Linked DNA regions of Homo sapiens. The protein of the gene in region 1 purifies or fractionates together with the protein of each later gene. This does not show direct contact. Each region holds a gene or a part of one and is shown on either strand. Other genes may lie near its edges.

The links.
Region 2: the proteins of ZFP62 (region 1) and LIN28B purify together in Homo sapiens (co-immunoprecipitation; one large-scale study listed by IntAct). This does not show direct contact.

Annotation. Positions count from the first base shown.
Region 1 is NC_000005.10:180,851,010-180,854,828, reverse strand, and holds part of ZFP62 (zinc finger protein 62 homolog), read left to right. Parts: intron 1-2,768; exon of another isoform or gene 2,769-2,841; intron 2,842-3,335; coding exon 3,336-3,819. UniProt on the Homo sapiens protein: May play a role in differentiating skeletal muscle.
Region 2 is NC_000006.12:104,955,735-104,960,196, forward strand, and holds the start of LIN28B (protein lin-28 homolog B), read left to right. Parts: upstream 1-1,372; 5' UTR 1,373-1,516; coding exon 1,517-1,526; intron 1,527-2,364; coding exon 2,365-2,552; intron 2,553-4,462. UniProt on the Homo sapiens protein: Suppressor of microRNA (miRNA) biogenesis, including that of let-7 and possibly of miR107, miR-143 and miR-200c.

The DNA.
Region 1 (3,819 bases):
TGTCTTTTATGAAAATGATGTATTTGAAAAATACAGTCCCCCCTCTTCTCTCCACCCTCTGTTTTAGTAGAAAACATTGTTCGTTTTGGGTTTACCTGGTGATTCAGTTCATGTAATGCATTCTCATAGGTGATGTGTCCTTCTCCCTACTAAAAGCATATTATGTCTATCTGCCCCTCTGGAGGTGTTAAATTAGAACACCTGGCCAAGGCATTGTCTCTCCACTCTTGTATTTTTCCCCCTTGTAAATAATTTAAGCATTATAAATATTTAAGACCATGCGGATATCCTGCTCCTTGTCAGAATTTCCTCCTAGACGTAGAATTCACTGATGATTCTCTCCTGATCCAGTCTTTACTCTGATAGTTGCAGAGTGCTGACTTTTCCAATTCTGGTATTCCTTCTACATTTATCAACCAGCACTCACATTCTGCTGTAAGCAAGAGGCCTCCCTTTCTCCCCTGTTTGTACCTGTGTAGACTCATGAAATCCTATCTTCAGTGGTTTATAATGTATCACTATACTTAGTTATTACGGTGCTTGAACACTGGATGTTCAAGCTGGGTCTTGCAGCGTGTCCCTACCCTTTTTTTGAGCCTCTCTTTACTTGCTGGTATAGCATGATGCTCATCTTGTATGTTTCCTGCTTTCAGCCTGCAATCAGCCATTTCTTTGAGGAGCTCTGGTTCCTTTTAGTAAATAATGGTAATAGTAGACCCAGAATGGGGTACTAGATGTGCTCATTACCACTGGAGTGTTTTGTTTTTTGGGCTTTCAGCAAACAGAACTAGGAAATCAGGAAATATATGCAAATATATGCATACAGCCATACAGGCTTGAATATACATGCATGCACATATATGTGATTTAGAAATCATAAGTTCACACCAGTACTGCAAATTCATCCCAAGGTTCATTTTCGCCTTCTTCTCTTGCTTATTTTTATGTCCCTTTCTCTAGGAGAGCCCTGAGCCCAACAAAATCAACACATTTACTCAGGTTCTTAATACATCTAAAGTTGTTTCAGAATCGCTTTGTTCATACCTCTACAGAAAACCTGCTAACAGTTGAATTATTTGTACCTCTTCCCACTGCCCCGCCTCCAGCTTTCCCCAGACTGAATGTACTTACGTAGTCAAATACGTTTCTAAGTTGCCTGGATTACTTCTGTATTTCTTTTTTGTTCTCTTCCTGCGATTGTGGTATTCATGGGAAATGCAAATAGGTTGATTTGTTTTGTTTTAGCAGTTTTTCTCCTTTCCCATCCTCACTGATGTTTAATTTTATTCTTTGAATATGTAGAATATTATGTATTTTGTATAGTAAAAACTATTAAAAAGGCTATATACTCGGAGTCTCTCTCTTTCTCCCATCCCTTCTGCTCCATTCTCCACACTCCTCCCTTGTAGGTGATGAACCTCATTGTTCTCTGGTTTATCGTTGCTATAAAGAGAAACACATACGTGCTTGTTTTCCTGTTTTCTTTCCTACACGAAACGTAGCATGTATATTACTCTTTTTCACTTTGACCTTTTGACTTTAGGATATACAGATTGCTCCATATCAATTCAGAAGCGCTCCTCGTCCTTTTTCAGTACTCCGTTGTGTATATGCTCCAGTTTATTTAACCAGTCTTCTGTGCTTGGAGATTTATGTAGGTTTCCAGATTTTGCAGTTACAATTAATGCTATAATGAGTCACTCTGTGCATGTATGTTTTTTATATTGTTGGAGGTGTATCTTCATTATAAATTCCTAAAGTAGGACTTCTGGGTAAATGCATATGTAGTTTTGATAGATATTGGCAAATTCCCCTTAAAAGGGGCTGTGCCAGTTTGCATTCCCAGCAGTGTATGAGAGTGCCTGTTTCCTCCACAGCCTTATCAACAGTGTATTGTCAAGCTTTGAACATTTGCTAATATGACAGGTGAGAAGTGGTGTTTTACAGTAGTTCTTATTTATCTTTCTCTCATTATGAATCAAGTCGAATGTTTAAGGACCATTTAAAAGAATTGTTTGTTCATCTTTTTACCTGTTTTCCTGTATGATTTGTAGTTTATTTTTCTTCAGTTTTTGAAAATGTATCAGTCTTTTGTTGCATATGAGTCATCATTAGAAAGCTTCCTCTATACTCAGGCCAGAGAGGCATTTACCCATGTTTTCTGGCATTTGTACAGCTTTTTTATATTTAGAGCTCTATTCCATATGGAGTTTATTCATGTGTGTATGGTGTGAAGAATGGGATCTAATTGTATCTTTTTTTTTTTTTTTTTTTGTGAGACGGAGTCTTGCTCTGTCACCAGGCTGGAGTGCAGTGGAACGATCTCGGCTCACTGCAACCTCTGCCTCCCAGGTTCAAGTGATTCTCCTCCCTCAGCCTCCCAAGTAGCTGGGATTAGAGGTGCGTGCCATCACGCCCAGCTAATTTTTGTATTTTTACTAGAGACGGCTTAACCATGTTGGCCAGGATGGTCTCGATCTCTTGACCTCGTGATCCGCCCACCTCAGCTTCTCAAAGTGGTGGGATTACAGGTGTGAGCCACTGCACCCAGCCTTAATTTTATCTTTTTCCATATGGCTTCATAGTTGTTACAACACTATTAAAAGGACCATCTTTTCTCTGGTAATTTCAGATATCATCTGTATCATTAATTTCTGTGTCTACCTGGGACAATGTCTGGACTTCCTGTTCTATTCCATTTGCCTGTCTATGTACCAGGACCATACTATTTTAATTATAGACGTTTAATAATATATTTTAATATGCAGGTTGCCTTCTTCCTCATCTCTGCAGTAACTGTCTTCATGGTTTCATAGCCTTCTCCCTGATACCCCTCCCCAGGTACTAATTTTTTCTCTTTAGTTTTGTCTGTCCTCTGCTGATTTTGTCTAACTTTTCATAATAAAAAAAAGTTTTACCTAACTTTTGTCCTACTTATGAATTTTTCTGTCTTCTTCAGAGATTTCTTCTGCCCTCTTGTTTGTTTTTCCATGACTGGGTGACATTGTTTAAAAACTGATTGGTGTTGCCCATGGTTCTGTGCATCATTTCACCCTGCCCTATGCTAAGCTGTTATGCAAGAATAGAAAAGCTCATTGTTCCATTGAAAATCCAGGGTTCTAGCATTTTAACATTAGTTCCACAGGGGCAGAAATTTTGTCATATTCATTGTTGTATCCCTAGTACTTAAAAACCGGTACATGGCACATGGTACCTGTCACACAGTATGTTGTCAGTAAATGTTTGTCAAGTGAATGTTGTTCATTGTTATTCCAGTTTGTTTTTGTTTTTTTTTAAGAGAGTGAATAGGTGTCCTTTTCATTTTCTTGGTTTAGTGTCACATTTGAAGACGAGCACTGAGGATGAGGAACCAACTGAAGAATATGAAAATGTTGGAAATGCAGCATCTAAGTGGCCAAAAGTGGAGGATCCTATGCCTGAATCTAAGGTTGGTGACACATGTGTTTGGGATAGCAAGGTAGAGAATCAACAGAAAAAGCCTGTGGAAAACAGGATGAAGGAGGACAAAAGCAGCATCAGGGAAGCAATCAGCAAAGCCAAGAGTACAGCAAATATAAAGACAGAACAGGAAGGTGAGGCATCTGAGAAGAGCTTGCATCTGAGCCCACAGCATATCACACACCAGACTATGCCTATAGGACAGAGAGGCAGTGAGCAAGGCAAACGTGTGGAGAACATTAATGGAACCTCCTACCCTAGTCTACAGCAGAAAACCAATGCTGTTAAGAAATTACATAAATGTGATGAATGTGGGAAATCCTTCAAATATAATTCCCGCCTTGTTCAACATAAAATTAT
Region 2 (4,462 bases), on another chromosome or scaffold:
AGTTAGTTTCTTGGTAAACTGCTTGTTTAAGAAAATGGGGGGTGGGGTAGGCAAGTCTGGTGGTGCATTTTAAGGTTTTAAAATAGCGATATTTTATATTTTAAAGGAAATAAAGTCTTTTTAGTTAATCTATAATATTTATTATAGTATTCGATAAGGGCAGAAATACTGTTGCCAGCATCTTGTAATCAATCGTTTGAACCAGTTTGAAAGGTAAAGGGGGTAGGCATTTTGAAACTGGGGGTCAGTTGAGGAAGGACAGTAGGAGCTTCATCCGTTGTTACATTTTCGTTTATTCAACTCTTCTAGCCATTGGTAGTGGACTTTTAAAATGTCAGGGTACAAGTCAATATGATATGAATTTACCTTTTTTCTCCCACTTGTCCTTCTTTCTCCACCCCACCCCCTGCCCGCGCCGGCTTTTTTTCTCTCCCACCTCTTTCTTTGACTCTGCTGCCGCCTATCCTGGCGGCTCCTCTTCACCTCCCCTGCCTGGCGATCCCCTCCCCCTCCTGCCCTATGTCCTCCAGCTCTTGGGGAACAATCGCCACTGATTGAGGTTCACTCTATGTTAGGCTGGAAAACTGGGCTGTTATTTAGGAAGTCATTAATCACATCTCCTCCCCCGGAAAGAGATGGCAGAGAAACCTGTGAAGTACAATTCCTTACCAACCCCCTCTAAAATTTTCCAAAATGGTTTACCTAAACACAATTTGACTATATGAAGGTGAAAACGATTTTTCTAGTAGGATTTTATTTTAAATTTGAAAAAATTTCGGGCATAATCAGGTAATTTATGTGCCTCTGCCTTTTCCTAGGTGTATGTTTTCATTATCTAAAGTTTCATGGGGATGTAATTAGGTTTAATTAGATCTTTTATAAATTATATATTTTCCTCTAAGAATTGAATTAAATATGAAATTAGCGTTCCAAGCAGGTTTACTGCCATGGAATAGCTGAATTCTTAAGGGGAAAAAAAGCGTTAACATCGGTTGTTTTATTTAAACGACCCCCTCCCATGATTTTAGTCAGGCTTGTGTGTAAGGCACGCGTGTGCACATATATGACTGCCTTTTTTTCTAAATCTATGATTCACAAGGTCCCTCCATTGTGTTTAAGTAGAAGCACGAAATCAGCATTCTGATTTATCCTAAAGAAGCGTTCCAAATTGTCTTTAAGATAACATGTTTGAGTTTTTCGTGTTCATTCATAAATTATTTTGATGTCAGCATAGATGAAATGGCGATTGGTTATCTCTTCCTCTTGCCAGCCCCTTAAGGATACGAGGTGAAATTAGTAGCAAGAAAGCATGTAATTGACAAAGTCACGTGTGCTCAGGGGGCCAGAAACTGGAGAGAGGAGAGAAAAAAATCAAAAGAAGGAAAGCACATTAGACCATGCGAGCTAAATTTGTGATCGCACAAAATCAAGATGTTAGATTGATGCAGAAGATCACTCCGTTCCAAAGGGAAAGTTTTCATCTCACGAGTTTGGAGCTGAGGGCCCGTGGGGCAACATGGCCGAAGGTTAATTTTCTTTTCTATTGTTTTACTGTGAATTTCTTTCTTCTTTTCTCCTCCCCCTCCCCCTCTCCCACCCTTCTTAGACCGTCCCCCCCTTCCCCTTTTACCCCAATACTGGGCATTACCTCCCAACCCCCCATCACGCAGTGGGGCTTTCTGCAAACCTATTGTTATAGATCTCCAAAAATGTTTTGTACCGCCCACACTGATTCACAACTTGAAAAGCTTTCAGGGGGCTATTGTTTGAATTGTGTGAGTGTGATTAAGCGCAGTTTCAGTTAGTGATTCCAAGAAAACTTTTATACACCTGCCCCCTCCCCCATTCCACCCCAACTTTAATTGAAAGTTATGGGGGGGAGGGGAATGCACATTGCAAATAACGCTGGATTCAGTGCTGCCCCATGTGCCTTAACTAGTAGCTCTAAACCATCTTCACGATTTCTCTTTCCTCCTCGTGCCCGCCGGAGAGAATAGTTTCGCTGAAAATTTCTCTTTGTCAATGGGATCAGTATTAAATCAGCAATATACAAGTAAAGTATCGCATGCTGTAATGTAAAATGTGGCTGAAAAATGGAGTTAAATGAATAAGTACACGTATGTATAGAAACGTGGAAGTTGGTGTGATCGATAGAACAGTGTGGCTTCCCCCTCCCCCGCTTTCCTTTTAACCCTTTTCATTTTAAGTATTTTCTGTGGAGAAAAGAAATCAAACCATTAAAAAAAATTTTTTTTTTCTGTTACCCTTCCCCCCCAACCCCAGGCAGGCAATTTTTTTTTTTTAATCTTTGAATGCACATTGAATGGGAATACAGACTGACTTTTTTGTCCTGTTCCTTCTCAGGCGGGGCTAGCAAAGGTGGTGGAGAAGAGCCCGGGAAGCTGCCGGAGCCGGCAGAGGAGGAATCCCAGGTTTTGCGCGGAACTGGCCACTGTAAGTGGTTCAATGTGCGCATGGGATTTGGATTCATCTCCATGATAAACCGAGAGGGAAGCCCCTTGGATATTCCAGTCGATGTATTTGTACACCAAGTAAGCCAAACTTTTTTGTCCCCCTCTTCATCTTTTTCCATGTGGAGGAGCTGATCGGTAGTTATGCCAATAGACGTACGATAAGATGTCCTTCGGTATATTGAAAGACAAAATCTTCCCTGAAATCACTAGGTAGTCCAACGTTTAGGGTACGTGTATGGGCCTTTTCCTGGGTTTTCTGTCTAAAGAGAAAAGAAAATATTTGAAATTTCACTATATATATTAAGGTTGACGTTATTAGCATTTCCCCCTGCTTCATTCTACAGCGAAATAGTGTTCTTGTTGTTTCCGGTATTACCTATACAATATACTTTGTCGCCTGTATCTGGTGAATGGGTAGAAAAATGAAGAAACATGATCATTTTAAGGTTGAAAAAACAAAGCGAAACAGTTTGCTGTGGAAAGAAATGTATAGATTGCCTTATTTTAGACACCTCTAGTCACAGTAGCTCCCTTTATTATTTCATCGCTGCCTGTCCTGTAATCATTTTGTAGATTCAGATCAAAATAATTTGACTTCATAGTAAAATAAAATAGAACACTGTTGGCCTAATGTGGTTGTAAAGAAATGCGTGCAATAGAGGGATGCTTGATAAACATTTTAGAAATGTGCTCCGTGTAGTCATTGGTCTACGTATACTGTCTCTTTAAGAGACTGAACTCAAAAAAACATGTGGCCAGAGGCGGCTCTTGCTTGTGTGTTTAAAATGTGCTGGTCTGCTACTTGGGGTAAATTTCCACCTTTGCTCGTATTGTGTTGTAATTTTTAAAGATGTTTTAATACCAAACAGAATTTCATTGCTTCCCATTTTCAAAATTTTACCCAGGAAATAATGAATTAATACTTCTGCCTTTACTCCTCTCTACTGCTTAATCCCTTTATAGTAAAAAAGATACTTTTATGGAAGCCGGTTGTTTCCTCAAAAAAAGGTAAATATAAATTTTCTGTAGTTAGAAATAAAGAGGTTTACGACTAAAGAGGTTTATTTTGGCATGATAATCTAAGTTAAAAAGAATTGAATGAAAGGCTGTTAATACTACAGATTGACTGACAGATACATGGGTGAAATATTTGGTATATTTGCTTGAAAAGTATATATTTGATACTGTGTTGCATGTTCCTAGTAATATTTATACCCCCTTCCCTAAGGAATATCATCTTCAAATTAAATATATAAACAATAGAAACATATGAAACCATTCTGTTTTGATCTGTTGTCCTGTGGTGCTTGGTAGCTTCCTGACCTTGCTGTGTGGTGTGTGTTTTCCTTTCCTGAAGGCCTGGCCATCATTATTGGCTGTTTATATGTGGAAGGATCAGCATAATCTGTGAATTGAAACAGGGTTTAAGTACACAAATACAAGTCCACATACAGACTACTGGATTTTATGCTTCCTATTTTATAGTGCAAAATGAAGCTACATTTTCTGTTTTTTCCCCTCTAAGACTGGATGACAAAAATCATAGACAAATCCATTTTCTCTCAGGCTCTTTCTTCCACCTTTGAACCTTCTTTAGGTTGTTAAATTGTTTTTTATGATCTCATAAATTTGTTTTATAGATGAATGAAAAAAATAACCCTTCTTTGTCTGGTCACGCCTTTTTATAATTTGATTTTCTATGTTTACCTTCTAAAATATTCATCAAATGTTAAGATATTTTATTAACCAATGTTAATGTTTAGAACAACAAGACATTTGTGTTTATACTATTTAATGATTATATATTGATAAACATTCCTCTATTCACTGAATTAAAACATGTAGCTGCTGAAGTTTTTTAAATATATAGCTGTTTCTATACTATAAACATTGATTTTTAAATAGTTGACTTAATATTCAGTTACATACAGTAGTATATACATACAGTTCATGTATATATTAAAAGGACAGTATTAAATGATGCCTAG